2 linked regions of the Homo sapiens genome follow. The protein of the gene in region 1 interacts with the protein of each later gene in a biochemical or structural test. Each region holds a gene or a part of one and is shown on either strand. Other genes may lie near its edges.

What was found.
Region 2: the proteins of AP3M1 (region 1) and RUFY1 form a complex in vitro, tested with the Homo sapiens proteins (one study listed by BioGRID).

Annotation. Positions count from the first base shown.
Region 1 is NC_000010.11:74,130,042-74,141,305, forward strand, and holds part of AP3M1 (AP-3 complex subunit mu-1), read right to left. Parts: intron 8,891-11,264; exon of another isoform or gene 8,765-8,890; intron 8,342-8,764; 5' UTR 8,339-8,341; coding exon 8,066-8,338; intron 6,763-8,065; coding exon 6,591-6,762; intron 4,124-6,590; coding exon 3,986-4,123; intron 1-3,985. UniProt on the Homo sapiens protein: Part of the AP-3 complex, an adaptor-related complex which is not clathrin-associated. The complex is associated with the Golgi region as well as more peripheral structures.
Region 2 is NC_000005.10:179,600,896-179,612,159, reverse strand, and holds the end of RUFY1 (RUN and FYVE domain-containing protein 1), read right to left. Parts: intron 10,269-11,264; coding exon 10,174-10,268; intron 10,097-10,173; exon of another isoform or gene 9,894-10,096; intron 9,784-9,893; exon of another isoform or gene 9,388-9,783; intron 8,554-9,387; exon of another isoform or gene 8,419-8,553; intron 6,285-8,418; coding exon 6,236-6,284; intron 4,579-6,235; coding exon 4,501-4,578; intron 3,876-4,500; exon of another isoform or gene 3,695-3,875; intron 3,671-3,694; exon of another isoform or gene 3,544-3,670; intron 2,785-3,543; coding exon 2,641-2,784; 3' UTR 2,148-2,640; downstream 1-2,147. UniProt on the Homo sapiens protein: Activating adapter involved in cargo sorting from early/recycling endosomes. Regulates retrieval of proteins from endosomes to the trans-Golgi network through interaction with the dynein-dynactin complex.

The sequences.
Region 1 (11,264 bases):
TCACTAGACCTATCACTGTATCTTTTTATTTTTATTTATTGTTTTTAGAGACAGAGTCTTGCTCTGTTGCCAAGGTTGGAGTGCAGTTGTATGATCATAGCTCACTGCAGCCTCACTCCTGGGCTCAAGTAATCCTCCTGCCCTAGCCTCCCAAATAGCTGGGAATATAGGTGCGTGCCATGACACCTAGCCCAACAATCACTACATCTAGAACAATAGAGATACCCTCTGGGTGTCAGATTAACTGAAGCTTTACATCTCTATTAACAGGTCAGGGGACAAGGTCCATACTTAACTCTGGCTGGAATATAATAATAATTCTTTTATTTTTAAGAGATAAAGTCTGACTAGCTAGTCCCAGCTGGTCCCCAGAGTAACTGAGACTACAGGTATGCCACTGTAGAATATAATTTTTTTTTTTTTGAGACAGGGTCTTGCTCTGTCACCCAGGCTGGAGCGTAGTGGTGCTATGATAGCCAGCCTCAACCTCCTGGGCTCAAGCAATCCTCCCACCTCAGCCTCCCAAGCAGCTGGTACTACAGGCATGCACCTCCACGCCTGGCTAATTTTTGTATTTTTTTTGTAGAGACAGGGTCTTGTTATGTTGCCCAGGCTGGTCTCAAACTTCTGGGCTCAAGCAATCCGCCTACCTTAGCTTCCCAAAGTGCTGGGATTACAGGTGTGAGCTACCATACCCAGCCAGAATATGCTAATTCTAAGGAAAATTAAACTGTTTCCTTTATGGAGCCAACCCTGTAAGATGACTGGATATGAGTTTAAAACATTTGGCAGGACGCAGTGGCTCATGCCTGTAATCCTAGCACTTAGGGAGGCTGACGTGGGTAGATTATCTGAGCTCAGGAGTTTGGGACCAGCCTGGGCAACATGGCAAAACCCCGTTTCTACTAAAAATACAAAAAATTAGCCAGGCGTGGTGGTGTGTGCGTGTAGTCCCAGCTACTTGGGAGGCTGAGGCAGGAGAATCGCTTGAACGTAGAAGGCGGAGGTTGCAGTGAGCTGAAACCACAACACTGCACTACAGCCTGGGCGACAATGTGAGACTCTGTCTCAAAAACAAAATAAAACAAACCAACCAAAACCATTTTCAATAGAATTTTATTTTTTTTTAATTTTTTTTTTGAGACGGAGTCTTGCTCTGTCACCCAGGCTGGATGGAGTGCAGTGGCGCTATCTGGGCTCACTGCAAGCTCTGTCTCCCGGGTTCACGCCATTCTCCTGCCTCAGTCTCTCGAGTAGCTGGGACTACAGGCGCCTGCCACCACACCCAGCTAATTTTTTGTATTTTTAGTAGAGATGGGGTTTCACTGTGTTAGCCAGGATGGTCTGGATCTCCTAACCTCGTGATCCACCCGCCTCAGCCTCCTAAAGTGCTGGGATTACAGGTGTGAGCCACCGCGCCCGGCTTCAATAGAATTTTAAAATGTGGCAAGTGTATTATGAAATGGACTAAGTTAACTTTTAAGAAATAGGATCCATAATAGAAAGATATCTCTTTTTTTTTAAGAGACAGGGTCTCCCTCTGCCATCCAGGCTGGAGTACAGTGGTGTGAACATAGTTCACCACAGCATTGAACTCCTGGGCTCAAGCAATCCTCCTGCCTCAGCCTTCTGAATAGGTAGGATTAAGGAAGCCATGCCTAGCTAATCTTTTAAATTTTTGATAGATATGGGGTCTTGCTATGTTGCCTAGGCTGGTCTTGAACTCCTGGGCTCAAGTGATCTTCCTGCCTAAGCCTCCCAAAGTGCTGGGATTACAGGTGTGAGCCACCGTGCCTGGCAAAAATCTATTATTCTATAAGATGGAATGTTATAATGAAAAGGGGACTCATGGAAGAGAAGATATTGACTATAATTCACAATAAGCCATCATTACATATTAACAAGTTGTGTGACCTGGAACAGTTCACTTAACCCTTCTGGGCTTTCCTTATGTGTAAAATAAATGTAAAGGAAGGACTAGATTTTTTTTCTTTTTTCTTTTTTTGTTTTTTTAGAGATGGAGTCTCACTCTGTCACCCAGGCTGGAGTGCAGTGGTGCAATCTTGGCTCACTGCAACCTCTGCCTCCCAGGGTCAAGCAATTCTCCTGCCTCAGCCTCCCAAGTAGCTGGGTTTACAGGCGCCTGCCACCACGCCCAGCTAATTTTTGTATTTATAGTAGAGACGGGGTTTTACCATGTTGGCCAGGCTGGTCTCAAACTCCTGACCTCAAGTGATCTGCCTGCCTCGGCCTCCCAAAGTGCTGGAATTACAGGCGTGATCCACCATGCCCGGCTGCTATTTTTAATAATAAAATTTTACGATTCTTATAGAGTACTATTGTTTTGTCTGGTTAAAAAGATAATCAGATTGGGTGTGGTGGCTGATGCCTGTAATCCCAGCACTTTGGGAGGCTGAGGTAGGTAAACTGATTGAGCCCAGGAGTTCAAGACCAGCCTGGGCAACATGGTGAGACCCTGTCTGTACAAAAAAAACAAATAAAAGTTAGCCAGGCATGGTGGCGTGTGGCGTGTACCTCCTGATTGGCTGGGACTATAGGCTACTCAGGAGTTTGAGGTAGGAGGATCACATGAGCTGGAGGTCAAGGCTACAGTAAGCAGGGACTGCGCCAATGCACTCCAGCCTAGGCAAAAGAGCAAGACCCTGTACTTAAAAAAAAAAAAGAAAGTGAAAAATAATCAGATAGGGGCTTTTACCAGAAGTACTGCACATAATGTAGTAGCAAAAGCATGGTATATAGCAGATTTTCAATAAATGTTAGAAGGAATAAATAGCAAGAGGTAGAGGTACATAGGGTAATAATTGGCTTAAAGTAAGGCATTATGAGTTCTGATTTACATGTTTGGCAGACCTCAACTAGTGGTTATGAAAATTATATGTAACCTATGGGCAAAATAAACAGATTTATGGGCCAGGTGCAGTGGCTCACGCCTGTAATCCCAGCCCTTTGGGAGGCCAAGGCAGGTGGATCACTTGAGGTTAGGAGCTTGAGACCAGCCTGGCCAACATTGTGAAACCCCGTCTCTACTAAAAATACAAAAAATTAGCCAGGGCCGGGAGCGGTGGCTCACGCCTGTAATCCTAACACTTTGGGAGGCCGAAACGGGCAGATCACCTAAGTTCAGGAGTTCGAGACCAGCCTGACCAACGTGGAGAAATCCCATCTCCACCAAAAACACAAAATTAGCTGGGCATGCTGGTGCATGCCTGTAATCCCAGGTACTCGGGAGGCTGAGGCAGAAGAACTGCTTGAACCCGGGAGGCGGAGGTTGCGGTGAGCTGAGATTGCACCATTGCACTCCACCCTGGGCAATAAGAGTGAAACTGCGTCTCAAAAAAAAAAAAAAAATTTAGCCAGGTGTGGTGGCTCATGCCTGTAATCCCAGCTACTTGGGAAGCTGAAGCAGCAGGATCGCTTGAATCCAGGAGGTGAAGGTTCCAGTGAGCCAAGATCATGTGATTGCACTCCAGCCTGGACAACAGTGTGAGACCCCGTCTCAAATAAATAAATAAATAAACAAACAGATTTAAAAATCATCAGATAATGAATGCCTTTCCACCGAAACCATACTGCCAAAGGACTTCAATTTTCTTTTCCTTTCTTCTTCTTTTTTTTTTTTTTGTTGAGACAGAGCCAGGCTGGAGTGCAATGGCATGATCTTGTCTCATTGCAACCTCTGCCTCCTGGGTTCAAGCAATTTTCCTGCCTCAGCCTCCCGAGTAGCTGGGATTACAGGTGCGCGCCACCATGCCCGGCTAATTTTTTGTATCTTTAGTAGAGACAGAGTTTCACCATGTTGGCCAGGCTGGTCTCGAACTCTGACCTCATGTTCCGCCTGCCTTGGCCTCCCAAAGGGCTGGGATTACAGGCGTGAGCCACCGCGCCCGGCCAGGACTTCAGTTTTCTATTCATCTGTGTCAGATGAATTGTTTTTCCCCAAATAAGATGACATGCACACAATTACCTGATTTATCTATAATTGCGTCTATTTCTTCAACAACATCAAAATAGGCTTCATTGTTTGTGTACTTTACCCCTGCCCGACGCCATGGTATGTTGGACAGCTGCCCGGTGGGGAGTGTGTCCCCAACATTACTACTGCCTAGAAACCAAAAAAGGAGAAGGCAAAGCTGATGTATAAAACAGTCATGAGAAAATTTATTACTAGGAAAAAAAAAGCTGCTTCTTCAATGTTTGGATTTTTCTTAATGAAGTTGTGGATGGTCACTAGAATTGTCAGACATATCCATACCAACATGATCAAATTTCTAGAAAAGAAATATAGGCCATGTGGCCCTCTGTCTACCTGCCAAACCAGGTTAAATTTATTTACTTATCTTTTGCCTCCTGTGTGTTAACAGTAATCTAATCTAATTCCAGTGGCTCAACAACAGAATCTCTGCCACTGATGAAAAAAGAGGTTGGTTGTTTCAAAACCTTCTGCCAATAAAATGTCTCCAGTGAGAATACAGAGTTATAACTAGGCCCTTCAGTATTCAACTTTATTTTACATGAGATGCTGCCAAGCACGCCTCAGTGGAGTAAATGGAATCTGGCCTTTTCCTATTTTAAGGTCAGCATACCCATACGGCTGCAATATAGCTAGTATTCAGTATCCAGCTCATTTCCTGGTAAACTGACACATGCCTAAAAATAAGTCTGGTTGTCCAAAACACATATCTTTGAGCTGTGACTTACTTAATATTTTGGTTAATTTATATTTCCCATTCGAAAGTACTACATACTTAACAACAACAAAAAGGTAGAGTTCAGAGAAGTGGTTTAAAGAAAAACACCTGTCTTCTTACTAACAAAATATATCTACCATTAACATTTTTGTTAATATTATGGTATTAACATTTTAATATAATATTAACATTTTGGTATATTTCTTTGAATATTTCCACCACCAGAAGGTTGCATTTTTTTCTATTTTGATAATTTTGGTTTTTAATTGCACTTTAAAATATAGTCGCAATCATACTGTATCTACAATTTTGCAGTCTACTTATGATTGGTGTTCCTACCTGCAACCTATAATCATGTTATCTTCCTGCTCAAAAACGTTCAATGTTTGCTCACTGGCTTTATGATAAAAGCTAAATATTTATCCTAGCTTTGAAGGACTTTCTCTACTTTTTAATTTGATCTCTAACTTCTCAAGTGAAAAACAGTTCTGCTTCTGCTAAAGGGATTAATAAAACTTTAGGTTTTTCTCTTTCATGTGTGTTTTTTTCTCATACAGTTCCACCATGGAGAATGCTCTTATTCCTTCCTCACTTCCTGAATTCTACTGATTTTCCAAGGTGGCCACCCACCACAGTTCAGGAGGGATTACTTCATTAATGGAACCATTCTCTTGAACTTTGTAATACACTATCTAATGAATCTGTTATGTTTTGCATTATATATTTTAGTAACTTTTCTCTGACTATAAAATACATGTTTATTTTGGAAAATTAGAAAGTATAAAGCAAAAATAAATATAATCTGTATTTAGCTGGGTATAATCATTGTAAATACTTTTTTGTCGGAGTGAATATTTATATATAAGAATAATTTTTTTCAGTTTTGTGCTGACTTTTCAATTTAACGTTACATCATGTGTATTTATTTTCCAATGCTATTACTTTATCTGTGAAGTATGGAATTGCTTTTTAAAGTCTTATACAGTTATTTACTTAATTTTTTTTCCAATGTCCCATTCAGAGTATAAGTTTTAGGAGTACAGACACACCATCTTATCTTTCTTTGAATTTCTCCTAACATTCGTCCTTACACAAAGGATGAATAAAGAGCTGCTGAATGATCTTTTTCTTATAGGCCTCTCTCACCTCATTTTTAGGTCAAGGCACTGGACAGGGGTTTACAATGGTTGACAGTGGAGTTGGAGTGGCATATAACATTTCATAGGAATCTTTGTCTAAAAGACTTTAATGCTTTCGAAAGAATATTGGTATCTGGATGTGCCTAATTTCTAGCTACACTCAAGAATTAAACCCAGCTGGAAGCTTACAACACAAGTACAGGCCCACAATGCATGAGATCTCATAAGTAAACTATTTCCTATTTTTTCTTAATACATCTTCTGAATGCATAAAAACAAAGACTTGGAGGAGATTGTAGTACTGTGTGGTTAAGCGTCTTAAATTTTCTATTCTCTAGTAATTGTGGAGTAGCAGCATACCAGTTATGTAATGCTATTTTAAATATTAAAATGCCAGTCTATAAATGGACTAAATTCTCTTCTAAGTGGGCTCATATACTGGCTTCTTTAGGAATAACTGGAACAATTTATTCAGTCTTAGTATTTAGTGTTAAATAATGGTAATAATATTGTTGTGGTGTTTTAGAAAAAAAAAAAGAGTAATAACCAAAAGTTCTTTATCACTTAAGGTCTAGCCTCTTTCCATGAAAATAAATATATAGTACATCCATTTTAACTTTACCAGTAACTTTAATTATGGCCAAATTGTACTACCTTAATAATATGTCAGATCATGAGCAATAATGAGTTGTTTACAAAGTTTTAATTGCTCAGTTACTAGCACAGTATGTTTTCATCTTACCTGTAATAGAGTTGACAACAGAGCGTAGAATTGTTGGTGGTTTAATCAATTCTTTCAAAATGTTAGATTCGGTAGCCAGTGGAAATCCATTGTCTAACATTTCTTCTAAGAGTTCATATACTATGACCACATTATCCTTAATTGCAGCCTCTGAACACTCACCAAAGTAGTCCTGACAAAATACACACAAAATATCACACAATGGAAGGCAAAAAGAAAGGCCTGCTAAATACTTTTTGTTCTGAAGAATAAACTTAGAGTAGCATAATTCATTGCTTAAGCTGCTGAACATATATAAAACAGAGCGGGGGAAAAAACCCTCTATAGTCCGGGCATGGTGGCCCATGCCTGTAATCCCAGCAATTTGGGAGGCTGAGGCGGATGCATCACTTGAGGTCAGGAATTCAAGACCAGCCTGGCCAACATGGTGAAACCCTGTCTCTACTAAAAATACAAAAATTAGCTGAGTGTGATGGTGCACACCTGTGGTCCCAGCTACTTGGGAGGCTGAGGCGGGAGGATTGCTTGAACCCGGGAGGCGGAGGTTGCGGTGAGCCAAGATCATGCTACTGCACTCCAGCCTAGGGAACAGAGTGAGACTCCGTCTCAAACAAAACAAAACAAAACAAAACAAAACAAGCAAACAAAAAAAACCCCTCTATAGTCCTAATATTATTCCTCAATATTTTCTTGATATTTCTAGGTTGAATTTAATTCCTATTACATATTATACCAGAAAGTATTGAAACATTAAATTGGAATTTGAGCTATAAACTTCATTCACCCTGATTATCCCAAAATACATATAGATAAGCTTAAATTATTTGGTATATTCCGCAAGACAAAATAATAAAATGTAAATATAGAAGAGTTCATAACCAATGAAAATCTTGAGACCATTGAGAGAACTGTATGCGGAGGGCATTATTGTTTCCTGATGATATACAGTCATCCCTTGGTATTTGTGGGAATTAGTTCCAGGATCCCCTGTAGATACCAAAGTTCACAATTCTCAAGTCGCTGACATAAAATGGCATAGTATTTGCACATAACTTATACACATCCTCCTATATACTTTAAATCACCTCTAGATTACTTGTAATATCTAACACAGTGTAAATGCTATGTAACTATTTGTTATACTGTATTGTTCAAGTAATAATGAGAAGAAGTTTGTACATGTTCAGTTCGATTTTTTTGTTCAAATATTTGCCATGTAAGGTTGGGTGACTTTATGGATGCAGAACCCATGTATATGGAGAGCCAACTGTAATCTGTAATACATATAAAAAATAGTGAATAGAGCAGCCATGTGTGTAACTGTATACCACACAGAAAAGGGCTTATGAATTTACGCTTAAACAGAGAGAGACAGACAGTAAACATCAAAACCTGGGTAATTAAATAATATAATCATGTCTCACCTTCAGCTAACTTGGGTCATTTAACTTAGAAAGGTATGATAGATAACCAACCTGAAAAGTGTCAGCAACTCGATGTAGGAACTCAATTACAAAGAGAGGTGGCACTTCGGTCTGTATGACAGATACAAAGAAGAGCTTATCCCGGTAGATACTGATGAGGTAGTGGTGAGGTGTTGAAATGACAGGTGGTACATTTTCAACATCAGCAGCTTTCTCTTGAGCTTCAAAGAAATAATCACAGACAGACTGGCTCACAACGCTCTTCCAGTGCTTCTCTAGAAATATGTCACCGGAACAGTTTATGAGAAATAGACTGTGGATCATTTTCTGTTGGGGCAAAGAAAGGTTTAAATTTATTATACATTAAATATCATTTAACATACACAAAAAGATTATACACCTTGACCAAGTGGGATTTATTCTAAGAATGCAAGGCTGGTTCAACATACAAAAATCAATCAACATGATATACAATAAGAACTAAAACAATCATTTCAAAAGGTGCAGAAATTGCATTTGACAAAATCCAACATCCTTTTACGAAAAAAAAAAAAAAAAAAGAAAGCCATTTAAGAACAAAAAGAAACTTCCTCAGCCAGGCTCAGTGGCACATGCCTGTAATCTCAGCACTTTGGGAGGCTGAGGTGGGCGGATTGCTTGAGCTCAGGAGTTTGAGACCAGCCTGGGCAACAGGGCAAAACATCATCTTTACAAAAAATACAAAAATTAGCCAAGCATGGTGGCACTTGCCTGTAGTCCTAGGTACTCAGGAGGATGAAGCAGGAGAATTGCTTGAGCCCAGGAGGAAGATCGACGCTGTAGAGAGCTAAGATTGCGCCACTGCACTCCAGCCTGGGTGACCAAGTGAGACACTATCTAAAAAAAAAAAAAAAAAAAAAAAAAATTTCCTTAACCTGATGAAAACCCCACAGCTAATATTATATTTAAAGGTGAAAGACCGAACACTTTCTCCTTAATAACAAAACCTAACAAGGATGCCCAGTCCCATCATTTCTATTCAACATGGTACTAGAGGTTTGAACCAGGGCAATTAAGCAAGAAAATAAAACAAAAGGCTTCCAAATTGGAAAGGAAGAAGTAAAACTGTATCTGTAGAAGATACAATCTTATATATAGAAAATCCTAAGGAATCCACACACACACAAAAAAAAACCTATTAGAGCTAATAAATTTAGTTCAGCAAGCTTGCAGGACACAAGTCAATATAAAAATCAATTATATTTCTATCCACTATAGCTATAAAATACTAAAAATGGGCTAGGCATTGTAACTCATGCCTATAAACCCAGCACTGTGGGAGGCTGAGGAAGGAGGATTGCTTGAGCTCAGGAGTTTAAGACCAGCCTATGCAACATAGTGAGACCTCATCTCTATTAAAAAAAAAAAAACAAAACAAAACTGAAAATGAAATAAAACAATTTCAGGCCGGGCGTGGTGGCTCATGCCTATAATCCCAGCACTTGGGGAGGCCGAGGCAGGTGGATCACCTGAGGTCGGGAGTTCAAGACCAGCCTGGCCAACGTGCAGAAACTCTGTCTCTACTAAAAAAAAAAAAAAAAGGCCAGGCGCGGTGGCTCACGCCTGTAATCCCAACACTTTGGGAGGCCGAGGTGGGTGGATCACGAGGTCAGGAGATCGAGACCATCCTGGCTAAGACGGTGAAACCCCGTCCCTACTAAAATTAGCCAGGCGTGGTGGCACGCACCTGTAGTCCCAGCTACTCAGGAGGCTGAGGCAGAAGAATCGCTTGAACCCGGGAGGCGGAGGTTGCAGTGAGCCGAGACTCAAGATTGCACCACTGTACTCCAGCCTGGGTGACAGATTGAGACTCCATCTCAAAAAAAAAAAAAAAAAAATCCCAGCTGCCTTTTCGTGGAATTTGACAGGCTAATCCTAAATTCATAAGGAATTGAAAAAGATCAACAGCCAAAACAATCTTGAAAAGGAACAACAGGGGCGAACGGGGTGGGGTGCGCCATTCCTCCCTGGCCAGGGTGCTTGGGAGCAGGGACCCCCACCTGCAGCTGAGCATCCTTCCTGGGAGCCACTCTGCTGTTCCAAGGACCTGGGAGGAGCCCTCGGTCCCCCGGGTGCCAGGGCCCTGGGGCGCACACATCCACCCCAGCCCGAGCCTGCGTTTCCTGAGCCAGGATCTGGGGCGAGATGGCTGCAGGCGGCCGTGCGCCCAAGCCCCACGTCCTCGTCTGCCTTGGGGCGCTCCTGGCCAGCTGGTCGCCGTAGGTTAAACTCACCTTACACCTGTAACCGGTGGACTTCCCTACATACCTTTGCAAGCCCTTCTGTGCCGACCAGCGCCTTCAAAGCGGGGTCTTCTGCCTTTACTTTTGGAAAAGCTTTTCATTTTGAAATACTTGGCTGACTTACAAAAGACTTCCCCTCACACTTGACATGATTGACAAAAGGTCTGAAATGCTTCATCTACAGTCTGATTTACTATGAAACAAGAATTGGGGGGATGCTTACAAAAATATGTAGAATTAAAAAGATTGAAAAAATATATATATTTGAATTAAAAAAAAAAAGGAACAACGAAGATGGATAACTCGTGCTTCCTGATTTCAAAACTTACTACAAAACTACTATGTGGTATTGGCACAAGGACAGACCTACAGATCAATAGAACATTAACCCTTACATTTATGGTCAACTGATTTTCAACAAGGGTGCCAAGACCTGGGTGACCAGTTGGAGAGAGAACAACCTTTTCAACAAATGGTACTGGAACAACTGGATTTCCACATACAAAAGAATGAAATTGGATACAAAAAGCAACACAAAATGTATCAAAGACCTAATTGGAAAAGCCAAAATGATAAAACTCTTAGAAAAAATATGCATAGATTTTGACTCTGGATTAGACAATGTTTTTTAAGATACGATACCAAAAGTACAGACAAGAAAAATAAAAAATAGATAACCCAGAGTCCATCAAATTTAAAACTTAGTGCTTCAAAGGACATTATCAAGAAAGCAAAAATTCACAAAATGATAGTAAATATTTGAAACCATATATCTTAAAGGGACCCCTATCCGGAAAATATAAAGAACTTTTACTCAATAATAAGAAGGGCCAGGTGTGGTGACTCACAACTGTAATCCTAGCACTCTGGGAGGCTGAGGAGGGAGGATTGCTTGAGCCCAGGAGTTTGAGACCCCGTCTCTATAAAAAAATTTAAAAACTAGCCAGGCATAGTGGCTCATACCTGTA
Region 2 (11,264 bases), on another chromosome or scaffold:
AGCTAGGTAGGGTGGACAGAGTGGCTTAGTATCGGTCATTTCTAACCATCTGCCCACAGGAGCAGTGCATGCAGGAGACATGGAGGGGAGGGCTTTGCAGATCTACCTTGCTTGCCCCTACCAGGACTGGACACTAGCAGAGGGAAGGGTCTGGAATGTGTATTGTTGGTTTTGTCTTTGGCAGGTCTAGAGAACAGCAGTTGTCGGGGGAGGCAGTGTTGAGAGTTGTTGAGCTGTGTTCTAAGCTTGGTTACTGCCCTTGAGATCTTGCGTTAATAGTTTGGTACTGAGGCCCAGTATTGAGAAAGATTGAAGGTCCCTTCTCTGGGTTCTTTAGTTAACTGTGGTACATTTAAGGATAAAGCTTGCCCTGTTAGAGAAGGGAGTAGAACTAGAAACTTGGAGTAAGGTTAAACTAAATCCAGAGCCATACGGCTAGTCTAGGGCAGGGGCGGTGGCTAACGCCTGTGATTTCAACACTTTGGGAGGCTGAGGTGGGTGGATCACCTGAGGTCAGGAGTTCGAGACCAGCCTGGCCAACATGGTGAAACCCTGTCTCTGCTAAAAAATACAAAAATTAGCTGGGCATGGTGGTGCACGCTTATAATACCAGTTACTGAGGCAGAGGTTGCAGTGAGCCAAGATCGTGCCATTGCACTCTAGTCTGGGTAACGAGCGAAATTCCTGTCTCAAAAAAAAGTCTAGAAGCATTATGGTTCTTTGGAATCTTATGCTCCATAGCTTGTTTGCAGTAACTTAACCTCCTGACCTTGTCAGTTGGAATCTGCATTTTAAACAAAATCCTGACCACTCACCCCTACCTCAGTTGACTTGGGAAGTGCTGCCTTAAAATATCTATCTTTCATTTCTCAGGCCTGGGTAAAGGTGGTATGGTAGCAGACCAGGGACTGGAGATTCCAGAGTTAGGGCTTGGAATATATTTCAGTTTCTGAGTAGGGAAGTTATCTTGACCAAATATTGCCAACTTTGAAAATTTCACTTAAACACTTGTGTTTATACCCAAGTGTCAGGCACAGAGGTGGGAACCTCCTGCATGTTTTTATACTGAGCTGTCAGAACAGACTTGAAGTAGGGGAGGGATAGATTATTCTGCTTTTGTGTGTGCAGATGAGAGCTAAGACTCAAGTGAACTGACTTGCCTAAGGCTGCCCAGCAAGTTAGGGGTCCAAACTGGGTGTATTGAAAAGGCACAGATGTCATATATGCCAGTTAGGGGTAGTGAGTGATAGGCAGTTTTTTCTGAAAGTTTGGCCCTGTATGAGACGGCAGCTGTTACGGTGAGGGGTGAGGAAAGGGGAGGGCTGCCAATGTGCTTGCCTAATAGGGTTGGAACCCTGCTAGGACATGGCTTTGGAGCAGGGCGGACCTCGTCTTGAAGTCTGGCCGCACAGTCCTAAGCGGTATAGGATGGAGGGGGAATCCTTGAGTCTTGCCCAAGCTCCCACCTTTTCCATCTTCAGAGCGGTTTGAGGGGAGGGAGCGGCAGAGGAGGAATTCAGTTGAGGGTGCCATGCAAGCATCTACCAGGGCTGACCAGGTCGTGGGGGAGCCTGCTTCGGAGGAAGAGCCCAAAGGAGGAGTGGAATCCTGAGGCCTGGATTTGGCGAGGGTAGGAAGCCCGTGGGAAGGGAGGGTAGGGTCGCGGACAAGGTATGTGTATAGAAGGTGGAGAAGGATGAGGCCTGGAAGACTTGACTGTTGGCTGTCTGGACTTGATAATGCTGTTGTCTCTACCGGAAGGGAGCCCCGGGCCATTGGATCTTTGGGGGTGGGGGCCTCCGAGGGAGGGACTGGAAGCCAGTCGTAGCGCTGCATTTGAAATGTGAAAAATGGCTGCCTGGCACGTGCCTTTTCACAGGTGTCTCCATCTGTAACCTATCAAACTCCCAACTATGTACGTGAACGACTCTTGCACTTTGGTGACAGGCTTGGGGTCACCTCCTCTGCCTGTTGACGGCAGGCTGACCCTGCAAACTGCCCTTGGCTCACCAGGCTGCCCTGCAGGCTCTGGGGCAGCACCAGCAGCCTCTCACTCACACGGGGCTCGGGCACGAGGGGCGCTCTGAGGCCTCCTCCGGTGCGGTGGGCTCTTTGGAAGTTGACACAAGCTTCTGCACGCACCAGAGTGAAAAATAAATGATTTTATTGCAGGGCCAATGATAGGTAGTCACAAGGGCATGAAATGGCAGATCTCTTGTCTGAAGCAGAGAAGGCACACTGGCAGACTCCATGTGTGTCAAACGCTGTGCATGAATCAGGTTTTTAGAAGGAAGGTAGGAGAGGAAAACTACTCACTAGCAGAACTGAACTGCTGTAAAATAGGTTAAATTCTTTGAAAAGTGAAAAATGATAGTAGCAAAATCATGAAGTTGTATCTGAACCAGAGCCGTGATGTAACCAAGTAAGATGGAAGTTTCCATCCAGAGGAGTTAATTCCGAACAAGTCACAGAAAGGTGAGAGCTGCCGGTTCCGGCACGCTGTCTTCTGGAGTGCCAGTGACCGGGCAAGAAATTTGATTCTTTCCTTTGATACTCTTGGGAAAGAACACATTTCCCAAGCCCCTGGAGACCCACAGGGTTTGGCACTGTCCGTGAGGCTGTGCTCCTGAGGACGGACGTTCAGGAGGCCGTGGAGGAGCAGCGCTGCAGGAGCAGGGTGTGGCAGCTGTCGCACACTCGCACCGGCTTGGGGTAGGAGGGCAGGGCCAGCTCGTTGCTGGAGCAGGTGTTGCAGAAGATGTGGCCACAGTTCCGGCAGTGGTGCTACAGGACGGGAAGAAGGCGGTCACAGGACACCCGGGGAAAAGCCATCCGCACACCCTCCCTGCTTCCTGACCCAGAAGCGCATCATTTGCTGGGAATGGGTTCTTATGTTTCTGTGGGGTGGTGAGGGGCTGTGTGCAAACAAGGGTCTTTTTTTTTTTTTTTTTTTGAGATAGAGTCTTGCTCAGTCGCCCGGGCTGCAGTGCAGTGGCGCGATCTCAGCTCACTGCAAGCTCTGCCTCCCAGGTTCACGCCATTCTCCGGCAGTAGCTGGGTCTACAGGTGCCCGCCACTATACCTGGCTAATTTTTTGTATTTTTAGTAGAGACGGGGTTTCACCATGTTAGCCAGGATGGTCTCGATCTCCTGACCTCGTGATCTGCCTCCGCCTTGGCCTCCCAAAGTGTTGGGATTACAGGCGTGAAACACCGCGCCCGGCTTTTTTTTTTTTTTTTGAGTCTCTGTCGCCCAGGCTGGGGTGCAGTGGCGCAATCTCGGCTCACTGCAACCTCTGCCACCTGGGTTCAAGCGATTCTCCTGCCTCAGCCTCCCAAGTAGCTGGGATTACAAGTGCCTGCCACCGTGCCCGGTTAGTTTTTGTATTTTTTTAGTAGAGATGATGGGGTTTCACCATCTTGGCCAGACTGGTCTTGAACTTCTGACCTCGTGATCCACCCACCTCAGCCTCCCAAAGTGCTAGGATTACAGTCATGAGCCACCGTGCCCGGCCTAAGGGTGTTTTTAAGACAAAAAGTTTACTTTTGCTGTACTTCATCACTAAGCCAGTGAGCTGCTAGTCCATGTTACAGGAAGAGTCTGGTTCGTTCTCTTTGCTGCATTCCAAGGGGGTGGAGTAGATCCCTTTCTAAACAGGTTCCCTGGGTGCCTGATAAGACATCAAGATGAGCACCTGTGCAGCCTCTGCTTCTGACTCCACAGATGGGGACAGCCAGGCCTTGTAGACACATGTGATCTCAAAGGCAGCCTCAGGACGTGGTTTCTAGCTCTGAGCTTACTGCAAGGCACTGCCTGAAACTCGGGTTGGGGAGCGGGTGGGGTAGCTGTGGCTTCCTCTCTTCCACAGAGCTAGGCTGTTGATGGGAACAGACAGAACATGGCTGTGGCAGAAAGGTGGGTGGCGCTGGCAGTGTTTCCTTTAGCTCCCAGTTTTGCTTATACCCAACTCTTCCCCTACCCAGCTGGTCTTGGTGAGACTGTTAATAAGGCCCAGTCAACCCTAGACCCAAGGGTGAGCCTAGGACCTTGTTTCCAGAACCTAAAGGGCAGGGGCAAGCACGCTGCCTAGATCACTAGTGATTTTTGGTGACCTGCTGCCCTGTAGGTTCCCCATAGATTGTTTTTGCCTAAGTTGGGCCAGATTTTGTTCCTGCCGCATACAGAGAATTTTCAATGACACTCCCCTAGAGCAGCTCTGCACACAAGGAGCCCCATCTCCCCAAAAATCATTGTCAATCACTGAAAGGATGTGCTGGAGACCAGGGGCCTATGACTGGCCAAGGCCTCCCAGAAAGAGGGTGCCAGGATGGAAAGCCATCTGCACAGGCAAACAGGAGAGGCGGGGCTGCCCATCTGCCACAGTCAGCACAGTCACCGGGCAGTGAGCCTGCTCTGATATGGGCTTCTGGAACCAGAGAAAGGGGAATCCAGCGGGCAACGACTCAGGGCACTGGGAGGGTGGGTGGAGCCCCCACGTACCTTTCTCCGGGAAATGGAGAACTCCTTCTCACACTGCCTACAGTGTGTCGCTTCGTCATCTTTCAGCCAGGCGTGGCCCTGAAGAGGAAAGGACATTCTAGAATCCACTTTCTGTCTAAGCCCCTGATGAGTGGGTAGCTGCGTTCTGGCCACATCCATTGTCCCTCATAGCACCTGTTTCCTAGTGAGGCACTGTTTCTCCATCAGATGGGGCCTCACAGGACTGTCATCAAGGGGCTCTTTCCCCGTCTGGCCGCAGCCGGGATTTCTGCATCCTAGCTCCGTGCTCCACCTCTTGGCCTCTGCAGGCTGCCCTGGGGCCTCCAGGCGGTCTCCAGCATCTGCTCACTCAGGCACACTCCCACTTTCAATCAGTTCCCTTTGGCTGAAGTAAGCAGAGCGAGCTTCTGGTGCCTGCAACCCTAGACCCTGCCTGAGACACTGGCCGAAGTGCTAGCTGAACTGGCAGGCGCGGAAGAAGGGCCAAATCTGAGTGAGACTAAGACACTTGTTGACGCTGATCCTTGTGGAGAGACAGAAGGTGATGGACAGCGGGCACTGCGTCCCACAGGCCTGAGGAAGCCCTTCTCCATGCGGGCCAAAGCCCTGATTCTTGACCAGCCCTGGGGAGCACATGGACTCCATTCCACAGGGGAGGCGGCTGAGGCTTTGAAAGGTGGCCCCTCAGAGGGCTTTCTCAGGGCGAAGCAGCACCTGTGATTTATTTGGGCTTAGGGACTGGGGTGTTCCAGAGAAGTCAAAGGCATGAGGTACTTTTCTGGCCTGTTAACATCTGCTGGACAAGATTTTCTTGCTGACAAATAGATCCTCACAGACTGAGCTAGAGCCATATACCCTTGGGGCTGCCAGTGTGTGCCCAGGACATTCATCCTGACATCAAAGAGCTCTGGCGGCTCTAGAGTCCTGTTTTATGATTTCTATCCTCTGATGCTGTGAAACTGATATTACCTAGAAGTCCCGGCTGCTGTTAGTTGCTGCCCCTGACCTGGCACTTGGAAGTTAGATGCCCAGAGACATCAGGGTCCCTGCTCTGCACCACGTGGAACAGTGTGCAAAGGGACTGCTTTTGCATTGCTGCCACGGCACAGCTGAGGCCGAAGCGGGGTGCTCCTGCAGGCAAGGCTGTCTTGAAGGCCAGGCTGCCGTGCCCCCGAATGTCTGCCTCCTCTCCCACACTCTCCGCCCTGCAGCTCAGCCTGGCACCCGCACCCACACCGGGCCACCTGCAAACTCCTGCTTTTCGGTGGAATGTGTCATTCTGCCCTCCCCACCAGGGTGCGGAAACCTGGCCCAACTCAGGGCTTGGCTTGAGTGGTCCCTAGCAATGGCACAGGGCACTGCAGTGGGGCTGGCTGGCCTCTGGCCCCTCACTTCAACAGAAGGGCCTGTTTTCCACTGTTTAAAGATATCCGCGGGTCCCTCCTCTCCGCCACCTGCTTCCCCCTTAGGGAATGCCCATCAGGCCTATTTTGAAAGCACAGCTGATGGTGGAGGAACTGGAGTCGGAAGACCTAGGCTCAGCTTCGGCCACCTGTCAGCATCGCCCTCAGCCGAGGGACACGTTTCTGAGCAGCGTTTGGCTTCTCTGTCAATACGTCATCACCACTGCCTCAACCACACGCTCTCACCTGACTGTTGGGATACTTAAACGTACGAGCACACGGGCAGTCAGCACAAGCTGACAGCAAAGAAGTGGTTCTTAGCAAGGCAGTACCTTCAGTGCCTGGTTCACTTCTTTTATATCTTCCATCTTCAGCTTGGACCTAAGGAAAAAAAAAAGGCCATTTCATAGCAGTGAGAGAGAGTGAGGCTCTGAATCCCTAACACAGCTGGCTCTCAGGACTAGCTTTGTGAGGATACCGGACTTGTGAGGAGACCCAGAACGTGAGTTGTTAAAATGCCTTCCGCCTCTGTACAATCCCAGAGTTGCCTCATCACACTGGCTCCCGTCTGCTGAGGGCTGAGGCTGAGCCTGGGACTGCATCTGGCACGAGAACACACTGCTTAGCCTGCAGGGGCTCAAAAAGACTTTGAGGGAGGCTGAGGCGAGAGGATGGCCTGAGGCCAGAAGTCCAAGACCTGGCCCTGTTCTGCACTAGTCTCTACCGCTCTCCCCAGCAGGAACCTGAGTCTGCAGGCTTCTCCCCGGCCTCCATTCTGCTGCCTGCTGTCTGGAAGGGGGAAGGCTCAGATGGCATAGCCATTTGTTCTTGCTCCATTCTTGTTCAGTGTCAGAACAATTCCTTTGTTTACACAAGAGACAGGACTGAACATGGTCTAAATTGGCAGAACTAAACCAAATAAAATGAAGCAGTTTGTGCAATTGAGGGAAACAGTCTGATCCTTTTTTTTTTTTTTTTGAGACAGGATCTTGCTATATTGCCCAGGCTGGAATGCAGTGGTGCAATCATGGCTCACTGCAACCTTGACCTCCTGGGCTCAAGTGATCCTCTCACTTTAGTCTCCCAAGTAGCTGCGACTACAGGTGCATGCCATCACGCCTGGCTAATTTTTGTATTTTTTCTAGAGGTGGGGTTTTGCCATGTTGCCCAGGCTGGTCTTGAACTCCTGACCTCAATTGACCCACCTGCCTCAGCCTCCCAAAGTGCTAGGATTATAGGCCTGAGCCTTTTTCTTTTTTTCTTTTTTTTTTTTGAGATGGAGTCTTGCTGCATTGGCCAGGCTGGAGTGCGGTGGTGTGATCTCGGCTCACTGCAACCTCTGCTTCCTGGGCTCAAGCAATTCTCCTGCCTCAGCTTCCCAAGTAGCTGGGATGACAGGCGCCCGACACCACACCCAGCTTATTTTCTTGTACTTTTACTAGAGATGGGGTTTCACCATATTGGCCTGGCTGGTCTTGAACTCCTGACCTCAAGTGATCCACCTGCCTCGGCCTCCCAAAGTGCTGGGATTAGAGGCCTGAGCCCCCACGCCCAGCCTGGCCTGGGTCTTTCTTAAAAGCTGAGATCAGTCTGAACTATCATCAGATTAGACTCATCTCAGTGACAAAATGGCAGGTCTCTGGGAAACACAGGCTAGACTTCGAAGGGAGGGATTAGAAAACAGCATCAGGGCATTTAGAAAAATCCCTGTGGCTTTTACTAAAGATCGGGAGGCAGCTCCTTCCCTTCCTGGTCCGGCTGCAGAAACAGGAAATAGGCCAGCAGATTGACAGGATGAGAAGAGGCTGCGCAGATGGACAGACCTTGGGAAGCCAGGTCAACAAGGCAAACTGAACATACAAGAACTCTGGGAAACACAATTTAGGAAGAATCCAGATGTTCCCAAGCCAATGAAACTGGAAACTGTTCCTGTAGCTAATGTAGGGCCTGCGAAGAGGCTTTGCCATCTCTGTCATCCGGTATAGGCTTGCAAGAGGAAGAAGGGAAGAGGGGAGAGAGCACAAAAGCAACTCCTCAGGTAGTCCTGTCTGGGTTTGCAAACACCTGATGCTGTGACACCCACAGCACTCACTGGGAGGGAATGGTGGCCAGGCAGCTCACACTGGGATTTGGAAGCTAGGTTAGCCGGTAGTGCCAGGCGGCCACAAAGTGCAACAATACATTTGTTTGTTTGTTTTTGAGACAGAGTTTCACTCTTATTGCCCAGGCTGGAGTGCAATGGCGCGATCTCGGCTCACCGCAACCTCCGCCTCCCAGGTTCAAGCGATTCTCCTGCCTCAGCCTCCTGAGTAGCTGGGATTACAGGCGCGCTCCACCATGCCCGGCTAATTTTATATTTTTAGTAGAGATGGGGTTTCTCCACGTTGGTCAGGCTGGTCTTGAACTCCTGACCTCAGGTGATCCACCCACCTCAGCCTCCCAAAGGGCTGGGATTACAGGCATGAGCCACCACACCCGGCCACAATGATACATTTTAAAGATCAGAGACCAACCACAGTTTCGAGGTCTATGGTCCACTAGGAGGGGACCTGTGACACTGCCTTGCTGTCCATCCAATGTAAAGAGGAAAACACTGGCTGCAAACCCCAGAAGCCAGCTCCACGCCAGCTCTGTTCCACGTCTGCTTCTGGTGAGTGCTCTCGGGATGCCCTCACAGCTGGCCTATGCTCTGAGCATGGGGACAGACACTGGGCCTTGCGTCCCTCAAGGAGCTCCCTGGGGGTTGGGAAGGAACGGGCCAGAGCACGGCAAGTTGACAGGCCAGACGGGAGCAGCACAGGGCACTCAGCTGAGTGGGTGGCAGGCAGGGCGGAGGGTGGGAGGGGAGGAAGCAGCGGCCATGGGCTAGTCTAGAAAGGTAAGAGGCACAGGAGAGACGGCGAGTGGCCAGCACCTGCATCTGGGAGTGGGCAGACCGCATTCCCACCAGAGACATCAGATTCCCTGACCAGCTATTTGTTTTTTTTTTTTGAGATGGATTCTCACTTTTGTTGCCCAGGCTGGAGTGCAGTGGTGCAATCTCGGCTTACTGCAACCTCTGCCTCCCGGGTTCAAGCGATGCTGCTGTCTCAGCCTCCCGAGTAGCTGGGATTACAGGTGCCCACCATGCCTGGCTAATTTTTGTATTTTTAGTAGAGACGGGGCTTCACTATGTTGGCCAGGCTGGTCTCGAACTCCTGACCTCAGGTGATCTGCTCACCTCAGTCTCCCAAAGTGCTGAGATTACAGGCGTGAGCCACCGCACCCGGCCTATTTTCTTAATAGTACTAGACTCTACAAATTTCTGGTGCAGACCAGGCTGTGCTGAGGTCGTGAGCCCCATCTCCTTGGTCATGGTGCTTATGTCAGGCATGGGTACTCGGGAGCAGGGTCAATCTCGGGTGATCCTGGCAGCTATGCACAAAGAAGAGGGAGTTTGTTCCTCTGATAGATGGCCTTGCTGAGTGCTGTTTTGCCCCTGCAGGGTCCAGACCCACCTGTGAGGCAGACAGGATAGCAGAGGTAGGAGACAGAGACCGATTCCTGATGGCTTCTTTTGCTTAAGCCACTTTGAGTTGGATTTCTGTTACTTGCAACCATGCGCCCTGACTCGAGGAGAAAAGCTACCCACTATGTTGAAAATGCAGAATCATCACACAAATGGGCAAGTTCCACAGTCCGCAGTGTGATCCACCCCAAGGCCCAGGCGTCCACAGCAACCTATCTAGACTGGGACACCAAGGAGGAGAGCTGTCAAGTCAGAGGGGAGCAGAACTACCAGGGTCTGCACCCCATCAGCACCTGCAGCAGAGACAGACAGACTCTGGCGGATGCAGTGGCCAGTTCCCCGAAAGGAAGGGGGCTGTGCTGTGCAAGGCGGGTGAGTGCACCTCTACTGTGCCAGGCTTCCGTTCCCAAACCAGCCCTGCTCCCTCTGGCCTGACTGTAGGCTGACCAAGCGATCCTCTCATTGCCCATCTGTTCCCTCAGGCCCTGGATATGAAGCTAAGGAATAGGAGTGTCCTGGTCACTAGGAATGAACGTGCTTCCTGAATTAACTAAGAGCTCGCTGACACCCCATGTGGGTAGCAGAGATCAGTGCTGGGCCCCTCTGAGGCCGGGCTTCCTGAGAGCTCATCCGTGAACGGCGGACTGAGCTCCTAAATGGCCCACCCTCCGTTCGCCAAAAGGAGGTAGGTTTGGGGCCTGAGGGATGTGGTGGGTAGCCTGGTGTGCCTGCAGTGGCAGACAAGGGGAGTGGGGTTCTTACTGGCTGAGGTGCAGGCCCATTTCCTGGAGGGCTTGTTCCTGCTCCTCGCAGATCTTCTGCAGCTCTGCCTTCTCGTCCTGAAGCTCCCGCAACTCCTAAAATGAACAAACCAACCAGATGCTGGACAGAGGATTACACGGTCCTTTTTTTTTTTTTTTTTTTTTTTTTTGAGACAGGGTCTTGCTCTGTTGCCAGGCTGGAGTGCAGTGGCACGATCTTGGCTCACTGCAACCTCCGCCTCCTGGGTTCAAGCGATTCTCCTGCCTCAGCCTCCCAAGTAGCTGGGACTACAGGTGCCCGCCACCATGCCCTGCTAATTTTTGTATTTTCAGTAGAGACGGGGTTTCACCATGTTGGCCAGGATGGTCTCAAACTCCTGACCTCGTGATCTGCCCGCCTCGGCCTCCCAAAGTGCTGGGATTACAGGCGTGAGCCACTGCACTGGCCTTTAAAAAAAAAAAAAAGATTCAGCAACCAGAGCAACAAGCAGATCAGAATGTTTTTCAAGAGCAAAAGGTGGCCAGGCACAGTGGCTTATGCCTATACTTCCAGCACTTTGGGAGGCCAAGACAGGTGGATCACCTGAGGTCAGGAGTTTGAGGCCAACCCGGCCAACATGGTGCAACCCTGTCTCCACTAAAAATACAGAAATTAGCTGGGTGTGGTGGCAGGCACCTGTAATCCCAGCTACTTGGGAGGCTGAGGCAAGAGAACTGCTTGAACCCGGGAGGCGGAGGTTGCAGTGAGCCGAGATGGTGCTACTGTACTCCAGCCTGGGCGACAGAGCAAGACTCCATCTCAAACAAAACAAAACCAAAAAAAAGAGCAAAATGCAGTCCTGTATTAATGTCATTCAAGATTATTTCTTGCTAGCTTACTCTTGACACTGGGCAGCTAAAAGGCAAGCACTCGACGAGGGCTCTGCAGCTGGGGACAGAGACATGGGACAGGATAGTTACATTCATCAGCCACATTAAAAATAGTTACCCTCAGCTGGGCGCAGTGGCTCACACCTGTAATCCCAGCACTGGGAGGCTGAGGTGGGCGGATCACCTGAGGTCAGGCATTCAAGACCAGCCTGGCCAACATGG